Homo sapiens: one gene and its partner. The protein of the gene in region 1 purifies or fractionates together with the protein of each later gene. This does not show direct contact. Each region holds a gene or a part of one and is shown on either strand. Other genes may lie near its edges.

The links.
Region 2: the proteins of FGFRL1 (region 1) and CELSR2 purify together in Homo sapiens (affinity purification with mass spectrometry; 2 studies listed by BioGRID and IntAct, with this or other methods). This does not show direct contact.

The regions. Positions count from the first base shown.
Region 1 is NC_000004.12:1,021,622-1,027,666, forward strand, and holds the end of FGFRL1 (fibroblast growth factor receptor-like 1 precursor), read left to right. Parts: intron 1-581; coding exon 582-854; intron 855-2,019; coding exon 2,020-2,100; intron 2,101-2,195; coding exon 2,196-2,480; intron 2,481-2,689; coding exon 2,690-3,043; intron 3,044-3,283; coding exon 3,284-3,726; 3' UTR 3,727-5,277; downstream 5,278-6,045. UniProt on the Homo sapiens protein: Has a negative effect on cell proliferation.
Region 2 is NC_000001.11:109,266,282-109,273,553, forward strand, and holds part of CELSR2 (cadherin EGF LAG seven-pass G-type receptor 2 precursor), read left to right. Parts: intron 1-1,266; coding exon 1,267-1,361; intron 1,362-1,569; coding exon 1,570-1,779; intron 1,780-2,299; coding exon 2,300-2,483; intron 2,484-2,598; coding exon 2,599-2,727; intron 2,728-2,828; coding exon 2,829-3,009; intron 3,010-3,142; coding exon 3,143-3,310; intron 3,311-3,412; coding exon 3,413-3,539; intron 3,540-3,651; coding exon 3,652-3,852; intron 3,853-4,144; coding exon 4,145-4,319; intron 4,320-4,645; coding exon 4,646-4,758; intron 4,759-4,935; coding exon 4,936-5,015; intron 5,016-5,104; coding exon 5,105-5,231; intron 5,232-5,318; coding exon 5,319-5,441; intron 5,442-5,996; coding exon 5,997-6,124; intron 6,125-6,358; coding exon 6,359-6,447; intron 6,448-6,551; coding exon 6,552-6,746; intron 6,747-6,884; coding exon 6,885-7,055; intron 7,056-7,154; coding exon 7,155-7,272. UniProt on the Homo sapiens protein: Receptor that may have an important role in cell/cell signaling during nervous system formation.

The DNA of each region.
Region 1 (6,045 bases):
CCGCCGTGCTCGGTTGCTTGTGGATAGCTGTGGGGTCGCTGGCCCATGCCCAGGCCCGGCTGGGCCCTGGGCTGATGGTTGGGTGGGAATTAGGTGAGGGGCCTGGGGCCTCTTTGGGACCCACCAGGCCCCCCATCCCCCTACTGCCCTTGTCCTTGGGGGGCCACTGTCCCCTCTGACCTCGGGTGTACGGCTGCTTCCTGTATGACCAGAAGGAGACTCTGCCCTTTTGGTTGGTGGTTTTCGAGAGTTACCAAGCGCAGCTGTTTTGCATCCTCTGGGGACCCTGCTCCCTTCTCGTGTCTCAAAGAGCCAGCCTCTGGGGCCACGGGGCTGCCCCGGCCATGAGAGGCTGCTGACGTGGTGTTTGCTGGGCCAGTGCTCAGGGCTTTGGTGCATGTGGGCAGCTGAGGCCTGGGTCAGGGGCACTGCACCTCGGCCCCTCTGCTCATCTTGGGCAGGTGACCCAGGTGGAGCTCAGGCCCGAGGTCTGTGCTGGGCCGTGGGTCCCCTTTTGACCGCCCCCCCGGCTCCGGACCCCAAGCCCCTCCTCGCTGACTGTTCCTCGGTCCCACCCGCAGGCCCCCCAAAGATGGCGGACAAGGTGGTCCCACGGCAGGTGGCCCGGCTGGGCCGCACTGTGCGGCTGCAGTGCCCAGTGGAGGGGGACCCGCCGCCGCTGACCATGTGGACCAAGGATGGCCGCACCATCCACAGCGGCTGGAGCCGCTTCCGCGTGCTGCCGCAGGGGCTGAAGGTGAAGCAGGTGGAGCGGGAGGATGCCGGCGTGTACGTGTGCAAGGCCACCAACGGCTTCGGCAGCCTGAGCGTCAACTACACCCTCGTCGTGCTGGGTTAGTCGCTGCTGCGGTCAGAGGTCATGGGCTGGGTTGGAGCCAGGCAGGGGTGTGCAGGAGGGCGGACGGGGACACACCTGGGGCCCGAGAGTCAGCCAGCCCCCGGCAGAAAGCCTTCCTTCGGTGCCCTGCCCCACCTCAGCTGGCTGCACCTCTGCCACCATCCCCCAGGTATCCTGTCCCGTTCCTGTCCCCGTCAGGCTCCAGCCTCGGAGCCTTCCTCCCAGCGGAGGGCGGAGGGTGGAGGGCGGGAGCCGAAGGCAGTGGTCCCACAGAAGGGCTGGGGCCCGAGGCCTTGGCAGGGTGTGCCGGCCGTCGGCTGTGACTTTGAGGCTCGGGTTTCGGAGTTCAGAGGAGCCGCCGGGATGCGTGGCCTTTCTGTTCTCTTCTGCGCCTGGGGCCCGGGCGCTGGGCTTGGACAGGTGTCCAGAGAGACACGCCCTCCATACCTAGGGACCCGGCACCCCGCCTGCTCCGCTGGGCTCCTGGGTGTGGGGCCCTCGGGTGGAGCTCCTGGGAGCTGGGCTGGCCCGTTTCTTTTTTTTTTTTAATTCTACTTTAAGTTTTAGGGTACATGTGCCCGTTTTCTGAATACAGGAGCCTGGCCCAGGCCCCAGCAGGGTCTGGGGGTGCGGCCTGAGACAGCCTGGTCCTGGGCTCAGTGAAGGAGCGGCTGTCACAGGGTGGATGGAGGGGACATTCCACAGCACGCCCTGCCCCTCGGCATTGTGTGGAATGGGAAAACTGGCTGTCCCCCACCCCCACCCCACAGTCCTTTCAAAGGGGACGATGACCGGGTGGTATGAGAGTCTCGTCTGTTCACCAGCCCTCGGCCCCTTGATGTAGGCTAGGGTTACTGCAGCTGCTGGCCGGGCCCGGCTCCCTCCTCCCCCGGGGCCTGCAGACCCCCCGGAGCCAGAATGGGGGCCGGCCCTCCAGCCCCACCCGTGCCCATCAGGGTCACCTGCGCCCAGTGTGGGCCAGCGGCCCTTGCCCAGCTGTCCCTGGGATTCTGGGCTGTGGGTGTGTGGCGCAGCCCCCTGCCTGGGTGTCCAGGGCTGTCCCGGCTGGGGCTGGGGGAGCTAGAGGCCACGGGGGAGTTGGGGGAGCTCCTCAGGGCCCCCCTCACCTGCCCTCCCTGTGCACCTCCGTCTCTCTGCAGATGACATTAGCCCAGGGAAGGAGAGCCTGGGGCCCGACAGCTCCTCTGGGGGTCAAGAGGACCCCGCCAGCCAGCAGTGGGGTGAGCAGGGGGTGACGGGGGTGGGGGGCGTCCGTCTGTCCCGGCCCCTTGGCTGCATCCCCGTCCTCTGACCTCCACGCCACCCCACCCCGCAGCACGACCGCGCTTCACACAGCCCTCCAAGATGAGGCGCCGGGTGATCGCACGGCCCGTGGGTAGCTCCGTGCGGCTCAAGTGCGTGGCCAGCGGGCACCCTCGGCCCGACATCACGTGGATGAAGGACGACCAGGCCTTGACGCGCCCAGAGGCCGCTGAGCCCAGGAAGAAGAAGTGGACACTGAGCCTGAAGAACCTGCGGCCGGAGGACAGCGGCAAATACACCTGCCGCGTGTCGAACCGCGCGGGCGCCATCAACGCCACCTACAAGGTGGATGTGATCCGTGAGTGTGGCCCCGGGCGCTGGCGGGCGGGGGGTGCTGGTGGGCGGGGGCGCTGGCGGGCGGGGGTGCTGGTGGGCGGGGGCGCTGGTGGGCGGGGGCACTGGCAGGGCTTGGGGGTGGTGGGCTGGGGGTGCTGGTGGGCCCAGGGTGCTGGCGGGGTAGAGTCCGGCGCGGCCCAGGAGCCATGCCCGCGTGCCACGTTCCCACAGAGCGGACCCGTTCCAAGCCCGTGCTCACAGGCACGCACCCCGTGAACACGACGGTGGACTTCGGGGGGACCACGTCCTTCCAGTGCAAGGTGCGCAGCGACGTGAAGCCGGTGATCCAGTGGCTGAAGCGCGTGGAGTACGGCGCCGAGGGCCGCCACAACTCCACCATCGATGTGGGCGGCCAGAAGTTTGTGGTGCTGCCCACGGGTGACGTGTGGTCGCGGCCCGACGGCTCCTACCTCAATAAGCTGCTCATCACCCGTGCCCGCCAGGACGATGCGGGCATGTACATCTGCCTTGGCGCCAACACCATGGGCTACAGCTTCCGCAGCGCCTTCCTCACCGTGCTGCCAGGTGCGCGGCTGCCACGCCACGCCACACCATGCTGGTGCCCGGACCCGCCCCCTGGGCCCGGCGTCCCACCCACCGGGTGGGGCCCCACCCTTCCCTCCCGGGCCGTGCTGGCCAGGTCATCTGCCGAGGGAGGGCAGCCCAGGGGCACCGTCTCCACAGCCCCTGGGATGGGTCTGGGGTGCTCTCCTGGTCTTTGTGTCGGCGTTCCCCTCCCTACCTCCTTTCCTCTCGCTCTTGCAGACCCAAAACCGCCAGGGCCACCTGTGGCCTCCTCGTCCTCGGCCACTAGCCTGCCGTGGCCCGTGGTCATCGGCATCCCAGCCGGCGCTGTCTTCATCCTGGGCACCCTGCTCCTGTGGCTTTGCCAGGCCCAGAAGAAGCCGTGCACCCCCGCGCCTGCCCCTCCCCTGCCTGGGCACCGCCCGCCGGGGACGGCCCGCGACCGCAGCGGAGACAAGGACCTTCCCTCGTTGGCCGCCCTCAGCGCTGGCCCTGGTGTGGGGCTGTGTGAGGAGCATGGGTCTCCGGCAGCCCCCCAGCACTTACTGGGCCCAGGCCCAGTTGCTGGCCCTAAGTTGTACCCCAAACTCTACACAGACATCCACACACACACACACACACACTCTCACACACACTCACACGTGGAGGGCAAGGTCCACCAGCACATCCACTATCAGTGCTAGACGGCACCGTATCTGCAGTGGGCACGGGGGGGCCGGCCAGACAGGCAGACTGGGAGGATGGAGGACGGAGCTGCAGACGAAGGCAGGGGACCCATGGCGAGGAGGAATGGCCAGCACCCCAGGCAGTCTGTGTGTGAGGCATAGCCCCTGGACACACACACACAGACACACACACTGCCTGGATGCATGTATGCACACACATGCGCGCACACGTGCTCCCTGAAGGCACACGTACGCACACACGCACATGCACAGATATGCCGCCTGGGCACACAGATAAGCTGCCCAAATGCACGCACACGCACAGAGACATGCCAGAACATACAAGGACATGCTGCCTGAACATACACACGCACACCCATGCGCAGATGTGCTGCCTGGACACACACACACACACGGATATGCTGTCTGGACGCACACACGTGCAGATATGGTATCCGGACACACACGTGCACAGATATGCTGCCTGGACACACAGATAATGCTGCCTTGACACACACATGCACGGATATTGCCTGGACACACACACACACACGTGTGCACAGATATGCTGTCTGGACACGCACACACATGCAGATATGCTGCCTGGACACACACTTCCAGACACACGTGCACAGGCGCAGATATGCTGCCTGGACACACGCAGATATGCTGTCTAGTCACACACACACGCAGACATGCTGTCCGGACACACACACGCATGCACAGATATGCTGTCCGGACACACACACGCACGCAGATATGCTGCCTGGACACACACACAGATAATGCTGCCTCAACACTCACACACGTGCAGATATTGCCTGGACACACACATGTGCACAGATATGCTGTCTGGACATGCACACACGTGCAGATATGCTGTCCGGATACACACGCACGCACACATGCAGATATGCTGCCTGGGCACACACTTCCGGACACACATGCACACACAGGTGCAGATATGCTGCCTGGACACACGCAGACTGACGTGCTTTTGGGAGGGTGTGCCGTGAAGCCTGCAGTACGTGTGCCGTGAGGCTCATAGTTGATGAGGGACTTTCCCTGCTCCACCGTCACTCCCCCAACTCTGCCCGCCTCTGTCCCCGCCTCAGTCCCCGCCTCCATCCCCGCCTCTGTCCCCTGGCCTTGGCGGCTATTTTTGCCACCTGCCTTGGGTGCCCAGGAGTCCCCTACTGCTGTGGGCTGGGGTTGGGGGCACAGCAGCCCCAAGCCTGAGAGGCTGGAGCCCATGGCTAGTGGCTCATCCCCACTGCATTCTCCCCCTGACACAGAGAAGGGGCCTTGGTATTTATATTTAAGAAATGAAGATAATATTAATAATGATGGAAGGAAGACTGGGTTGCAGGGACTGTGGTCTCTCCTGGGGCCCGGGACCCGCCTGGTCTTTCAGCCATGCTGATGACCACACCCCGTCCAGGCCAGACACCACCCCCCACCCCACTGTCGTGGTGGCCCCAGATCTCTGTAATTTTATGTAGAGTTTGAGCTGAAGCCCCGTATATTTAATTTATTTTGTTAAACATGAAAGTGCATCCTTTCCCTCCAGGCTGGTGTTTCTGCCCATGTCTACATGCACGTGTGCATGCTCGTGTGTGCTCACATTTGTGCCTGTGTGTCAGGCCTGGTCTCCAGAACCAGCAGCCTAACCCTCTTGGAGTCCCCTCGCTGGGCCAGAGCCACAGGGGCTGAGAACTGCACCTCCCGGCGGGAGAGTTTGGGTATACTGGGCTTCGGTGGTGTTGGGCGTGAGCACTGCCCACATGCCTGGCCAGGCCTGCGTCCTGCACCCCTGTCCCAGCGGCGCCCTCTCTGTGTCCTGGGGCTGGCACCTATGGCCCTCAGTGCAGGGCCTGGCCACTCCCCAGCCCCTCCTCAGGCTTTGGTGGGTGGCCCTACAGGAGGCAGCAGACTGGCCTCAGAGCTGGGGATGGGGCCAGGCTCAGGTCACCTCTGACCTCAGGGCTCCGTCCGAGTGCCCTCCCAGCCACCCTGCGGTGCTGCGACGGTGGCCGACCCCATCTTACCCGGTCAGCAGGAGGGGTGGGGCTGCCAGCTCCACCCGGGGCCCTTGCCTGCCGGGGGTTCCGTTAGCCTCGTAAGAAAAGGCACCGGGGCCCCTCGTGCATTCAGCAAAGCGTGAGGCCCACTGCGTCCCCGGAGCCTGGTCCTGCTGGCGTGCAGCGCGCTTCCTGACCCGCTCTGGTTCTGAGAGCTTTTCCCTGGAGGAAGCTCACCCTGCCTGGCTTCAAAGACGACAGGTGGGCTCTGGGGAGAGGTGTCAGGGACCTCTCCCCAACTGGAGCTTCTGGGGAC
Region 2 (7,272 bases), on another chromosome or scaffold:
GGCTGAAGATCCGGGGACCCCACTTTCTGGCCTCCAGGTCCTGGGATTTCATTTCCCATCTTCCTTGGTTCACATTCCCCCTTCCCCATGTTGCCCAGGTGTGCCTACATCTTGGACTGTTTTGTTTTGTTTTGGTTTGGTTTTTTTTCTGGGACAGAGTCTGTCACTGTCACCCAGGCTGGTGTGCAGTGGCGTGATCTCCGCTCGCTGCAACCTCTGCCTCCCAGGTTCAAGCAATTTTCCTGCCTAAGCCTCTGGCCGCCACCACACCTGGCTAATTTTTTTTTTTTTTTTTTTTTTTTTGTATTTTTAGTAGAGACAGGGTTTCACCATGTTGGCCAGTCTGGTCTCGAACTCCTGACCTCATGATCCGCCTGCCTCGGCCTCCCAAAGTGCTGGGATTACAGGCGTGAGCCACTGCACCCCACCACATTTTGGACTTTTTTTTTTTTTTTTTGAGACGGAGTCTCGCTCTGTCATCAGGCTACAATGCAGTGGCATGATCTCGGCTCTCTGCAACCTCCACCTCACAGGTTCAAGCGATTCTCCTACCTCAGCCTTCCGAGTAGCTGGTACTACAGGCGTGTGCTACCATGCCCAGCTAATTTTTTATATTTTTTTAGTAGAGACAGGGTTTCACCATGTTGGCCAGGATGGTCTCGATCTCTTGACCTTGTGATCAGCCCGCCTCGGCCTCCCAAAGTGCCGAGATTACAGGCGTGAGCCACCGTGCCCAGCCCACATCTTGGACTCTTAACAAAAATGCTGAAAAACCTGCACTGTGCTTGGCATAGGGCTGTGCTAGAGATTCAAAGATGAATCATGCAGGGTTCCAATCGTCAGCTCACCACCGAGTCCTGGAGTTACGCCACCACAAAGGCAGACAGTCTGGGGAGTAGGGGGTGTTGGCTGCTGACCCAGGACACCCAGCCCAGGATGGGGGCTGGCGCTGGTCCTGGACTGGCAATGAGCAGGTTCATAGGCAGGAAGTGGCGGAGAGCACAAAGTGGTGGCTGGAGACAGGCAGGATGGGGGCTCAAGGAGGTCGTATGCCCTGTTCCCCTAGAGCCCATGTGTGGACTGATCTTGCGGAGATTTTTGGCCCTGGTGTTCTACATACCTGTCTTCCTGTTTCACCAGGGCCCTTGTTTGCTAGTTACTGTCCCCGGCCCATGAGGTGCTGGCCTCCAGCAGAACCTCTCAGCCAGTCTCAGGGGCTTCCTGTGTGTCTCCCTGAGGCCGGCCCTTTTGGCTTCCTTCCCCCAGGGACTGCTGTGCGCCACTGTGATGAGCACAGGGGGTGGCTCCCCCCAAACCTCTTCAACTGCACGTCCATCACCTTCTCAGAACTGAAGGGCTTCGTAAGTGAACCCCCTCATCTCCATCTTTTCCCTGTCCTTCGTCCTGAGTCTCACTTGCCCCCACTCCCATCTTTGAGAACGGGGCTTCTGGAATTCCAGCCTGTGTGTTCCTGGGCTCCCAGCTGGAGAGGCCGTCTCTCACCTCCTGAGGTCCTTTTGCTCCAGAGTTCCTGCCCTCACTCCTGCTCCTCCGCTCCGTCCTGTCTAGGCTGAGCGGCTACAGCGGAATGAGTCAGGCCTAGACTCAGGGCGCTCCCAGCAGCTAGCCCTGCTCCTGCGCAACGCCACGCAGCACACAGCTGGCTACTTCGGCAGCGACGTCAAGGTGGCCTACCAGCTGGCCACGCGGCTGCTGGCCCACGAGAGCACCCAGCGGGGCTTTGGGCTGTCTGCCACACAGGACGTGCACTTCACTGAGGTGGGGCTTGGAGGATGCAGGGCTGGCTGGTTAGATAGGGGTCATGGTGAGTGAGCCTGCTCATGGCAACCTGGGGGGCAGAGGGGGCCCTCCCATCCCACCTACAAGGAGCTCCCTGCTGGCAGGAGGCCTCCATGAAACCCTGTGACCCCTGGCCCAGCCCTCTTCCCAACCCTTCTCATAGTAACATATGTGTGTTGGGGCATGGTCTGACCCAGAGCAGAGGCCTGCCTGTGGTACCATGGGCTGGGAGGAAGCAGTATCTCAGGACATGTGTGTGGGTCCAGGCACAGGGCTGGGAAGCTCTTATGTAGAGAATGAGGAGGAGGGCTTAGGGGCAGAGCATCCAGTGACCTGAGTGGGCAGTGCGGTCCAGGAGCATTTCAGGGGAGGCAACAGTGAGCACAGAGGGAGGGGCCTGGTGGGGAGCAGGGACTGGCCCGGGCACAGGCCGGGGCTCCATGGTGGGGATGTCAGGTGTGGGTTGTGAGCACACCCACCGTGACCTTGCCCACCCCAGAATCTGCTGCGGGTGGGCAGCGCCCTCCTGGACACAGCCAACAAGCGGCACTGGGAGCTGATCCAGCAGACAGAGGGTGGCACCGCCTGGCTGCTCCAGCACTATGAGGCCTACGCCAGTGCCCTGGCCCAGAACATGCGGCACACCTACCTAAGCCCCTTCACCATCGTCACGCCCAACATTGGTAAGGCTGGTGCCTGGGTTGGGGAGGGGTTTGTGGAGGGAGTCCCCGACAAGAGCGGCTGTGCTGGGGTCCTGCCTGCCTCACAGGTCCGATCTGTGACCATCCCCTTCCTTAGTCATCTCCGTAGTGCGCTTGGACAAAGGGAACTTTGCTGGGGCCAAGCTGCCCCGCTACGAGGCCCTGCGTGGGGAGCAGCCCCCGGACCTTGAGACAACAGTCATTCTGCCTGAGTCTGTCTTCAGAGGTCAGTGGTGGCCATGGATTGAGTTGGGAGCTGGACCCCAGTGTCTGTGCAGACTCCACAGAGAGCAGGGCCCAGCTAAGTGTGACAGTGTCCCCTCCCAGAGACGCCCCCCGTGGTCAGGCCCGCAGGCCCCGGAGAGGCCCAGGAGCCAGAGGAGCTGGCACGGCGACAGCGACGGCACCCGGAGCTGAGCCAGGGTGAGGCTGTGGCCAGCGTCATCATCTACCGCACCCTGGCCGGGCTACTGCCTCATAACTATGACCCTGACAAGCGCAGCTTGAGGTCAGCAGCTAGGGGACAGGTGTGGGTAGGGGTATGGGTCGGGCGGTGAGTGCTGAGGCATGGAGGGGGTCGGGGGCGTCTCCCCAGTCATGTGACTGCCGTGGTGACTGTGCACCTGACTGCCCCACATCAGAGTCCCCAAACGCCCGATCATCAACACACCCGTGGTGAGCATCAGCGTCCATGATGATGAGGAGCTTCTGCCCCGGGCCCTGGACAAACCCGTCACGGTGCAGTTCCGCCTGCTGGAGACAGAGGAGCGGACCAAGCCCATCTGTGTCTTCTGGAACCATTCAATCCTGTGAGCCTGCACTGCCCTCGCCCCCTCAGGCTTCGGGCTGAAAGTCCAGGCCCCTGCATGCCTCACCCTCCTTGTCTCCCTGACCCTGCCTTCCTCACACAGGGTCAGTGGCACAGGTGGCTGGTCGGCCAGAGGCTGTGAAGTCGTCTTCCGCAATGAGAGCCACGTCAGCTGCCAGTGCAACCACATGACGAGCTTCGCTGTGCTCATGGACGTTTCTCGGCGGGAGGTCGGGCCCACAGGGGCAGCTGCAGAGCCGTGGGTGGGCACCCAGGGCACGGGGCTGGGTGCTCAGGTCCTGCCCTTCCTAATTCCCTGGCCCCCTGCCACCTACTCTGCAGAATGGGGAGATCCTGCCACTGAAGACACTGACATACGTGGCTCTAGGTGTCACCTTGGCTGCCCTTCTGCTCACCTTCTTCTTCCTCACTCTCTTGCGTATCCTGCGCTCCAACCAACACGGCATCCGACGTAACCTGACAGCTGCCCTGGGCCTGGCTCAGCTGGTCTTCCTCCTGGGAATCAACCAGGCTGACCTCCCTGTAAGATGCTCCTACTGCCCAGAAACTGTCCCCACCTTCTCAGGCCGCCTCCCCAGCCCCCACTGGCAACCCCTGCTCCTGCACCATGAACTCTAATAAGGTGCCTAGTGCAGCACCTGGCCCAGGGTTTCCTCTTCTGTGGCTCCCCCGGGATCCCCCAGCACCTGCCTCTGGCCCAGGCTTCCCTGGAAGCAGTTCCCAACACCCAGGCCCTCCTCCATGCCTGACCCGAAGCAGAGCCTGTGCTCTGGGCGGGCCCCGGTCGCTGACCTGCCCTGGCCTGGGCCCTCAGTTTGCCTGCACAGTCATTGCCATCCTGCTGCACTTCCTGTACCTCTGCACCTTTTCCTGGGCTCTGCTGGAGGCCTTGCACCTGTACCGGGCACTCACTGAGGTGCGCGATGTCAACACCGGCCCCATGCGCTTCTACTACATGCTGGGCTGGGGCGTGCCTGCCTTCATCACAGGTACTCCCACCCATTCCCAGTCTTGGGGTCCCACATCCCTGGGTCCACCTTTGTGCCATGTTCTCTCCACCCACATACAGGCCCTGAGGCCCCACATCCCCATGCCCCAGGCCGCCTTATTCACAGGTGTCCCTCTGGTTTAACCCAGACTCTGCAGCCGCCACCCAGGCGTCACTCCCTTATCCTGGGGAGATCGGTAGGGGCCGATGGTGGGCAGAACCCTTTTCCATGCTTCATGCCTGGCCCTGTGAGCCCACCTGCCCGCAGCCCTACTTCCCAGGCCCCTCATCACCCCTCCACTGCTCCCGTCTGTCTCCATGCTCCAGGGCTAGCCGTGGGCCTGGACCCCGAGGGCTACGGGAACCCTGACTTCTGCTGGCTCTCCATCTATGACACGCTCATCTGGAGTTTTGCTGGCCCGGTGGCCTTTGCCGTCTCGGTGAGTGCTAGCAGGTGGGTTGGGTGTCACCTGTGGCCCTCCTTTGCTGTCCTCCTGCTGCTGGGGCCGCGTGTCCTCAGGACTCCCTTTAGGAACAGCTGAGGCCACGGGGCCCTGTGGGCTGGGTGGAAGCTGTTTGTCCCCACTGAGCACCCCATGCCCTCTGCCCCTGCCTAGATGAGTGTCTTCCTGTACATCCTGGCGGCCCGGGCCTCCTGTGCTGCCCAGCGGCAGGGCTTTGAGAAGAAAGGTCCTGTGTGAGTATAGGGTTGGGGTGCCTGGGCCATGGGCAGGCACCAGCATGGGAGGTCTCATGGCCGGACTCATGGCCTGTCCCTATCCCCAGCTCGGGCCTGCAGCCCTCCTTCGCCGTCCTCCTGCTGCTGAGCGCCACGTGGCTGCTGGCACTGCTCTCTGTCAACAGCGACACCCTCCTCTTCCACTACCTCTTTGCTACCTGCAATTGCATCCAGGTACCTGGCCCAGCCTGTGGAGAAGGGAGGCACCTGGGCTGTGGATGCCTGAATATGCACAGACCGTTGCTGCCTCTTGCCTGCCAGGGCCCCTTCATCTTCCTCTCCTATGTGGTGCTTAGCAAGGAGGTCCGGAAAGCACTCAAGCTTGCCTGCAGCCGCAAGCCCAGCCCTGACCCTGCTCTGACCACCAAGTCCACCCTGACCTCGGTGAGGGAGCCAGGGGTCTCAGGAGGGCGGTGAAGGGAGGGAGAGGCAGGAGGCCCAGTGAGCCTGTACTTTTGGCCCCACTCCCCTTTCTCTTTTCTCCATCCCTTCCTGGAAGGTGGAAGGGGAGGTGAAATGCTGTGTTCGGCCTGGGGAGGAGATGTTGGAAAGGGTGTGTAGGATTTTGACTTGAGGGAGATGGGGCTGAGACAGATAATCAGGTAATAAGTGCCTTGCACCTGAGAATCTCTCATGAATTTTAGTAAATTTTCTGTCTCCCAAGGTGCTCTCAGGAGACAATTTCTGGTCTCATCTTTTACAGAGCCATTATATAGTGAGTCCAGGATCCCTGGGGGCATGCAGGGGTAGCACAGCTGTGGCAGAGCTGTGACCACTGCCAGGCCTCAATATGGGGACAGCGGAGAAGCAGGGCCCTCTCTTTCAGACCTGAGCATGTGGAAGGTGGAACTTAGGGCAAGTTCCCTCCACCCTCCTTCTTCCCAGCCTGGGGCCAGCCATCCCACTCCCCACTTACTGACCTCTCTGTTCCCTGCCTAGTCCTACAACTGCCCCAGCCCCTACGCAGATGGGCGGCTGTACCAGCCCTACGGAGACTCGGCCGGCTCTCTGCACAGCACCAGTCGCTCGGGCAAGAGTCAGCCCAGCTACATCCCCTTCTTGCTGAGGTGAATCCCGGAGATGGGAGGGTGGAGGAGGGGAGGAGGGGCCCACGCATGCTGGACCCAGGCCAGCCAGCTGTTGGGAGTTGAGGAGCACACACTGTGGCTGACGTGGGGGCCAGCTTGGATTAGAAGCTGTAAGGGACCCACAGCAGGAACCAGGATCCCAGGGGAGAGGAGAGACTGGGACCCTGGGCAAGGGGCCAGGCTGACCCCTCCAGCATGGTCTCATCTTCCTAGGGAGGAGTCCGCACTGAACCCTGGCCAAGGGCCCCCTGGCCTGGGGGATCCAGGCAGCCTGTTCCTGGAAGGTCAAGACCAGCAGCATGGTGAGGACAGAACGCTCTGGCCACCCAGCAGGGCAGTTGGCTGGCTTTTACTGAAGGTGGGTGGAGGTGGCTGGGCTGGCTGTGATCTCTCCCTGGCCTCCTAGATCCTGACACGGACTCCGACAGTGACCTGTCCTTAGAAGACGACCAGAGTGGCTCCTATGCCTCTACCCACTCATCAGACAGTGAGGAGGAAGAAGAGGAGGAGGAAGAGGAGGCCGCCTTCCCTGGAGAGCAGGGCTGGGATAGCCTGCTGGGGCCTGGAGCAGAGAGACTGCCCCTGCACAGTACTCCCAAGGGTGGGCCAGCACTGGGGCTGTGGCCTTTGGGGCCAGTGGGAGGACAGTGGGCCTGGGGTTCTTGGGAAGCAGGACTGGGGTGGTGGCCTCCTGGCTATCTGCCCTCTGTGGGCCTCATCTACTTCCTTTCCCCACCAGATGGGGGCCCAGGGCCTGGCAAGGCCCCCTGGCCAGGAGACTTTGGGACCACAGCAAAAGAGAGTAGTGGCAACGGGGCCCCTGAGGAGCGGCTGCGGGAGAATGGAGATGCCCTGTCTCGAGAGGGGTCCCTAGGCCCCCTTCCAGGCTCTTCTGCCCAGCCTCACAAAGGTGAGTGGGGCACCCCCAGCTGCCGAGCTCCCCTAGTCAGCAGCCTCATACCTCACATTCTCCTGTGGCCGCACCTCACAGCCCCGCCCCGGCCCACAGGCATCCTTAAGAAGAAGTGTCTGCCCACCATCAGCGAGAAGAGCAGCCTCCTGCGGCTCCCCCTGGAGCAATGCACAGGGTCTTCCCGGGGCTCCTCCGCTAGTGAGGGCAGCCGGGG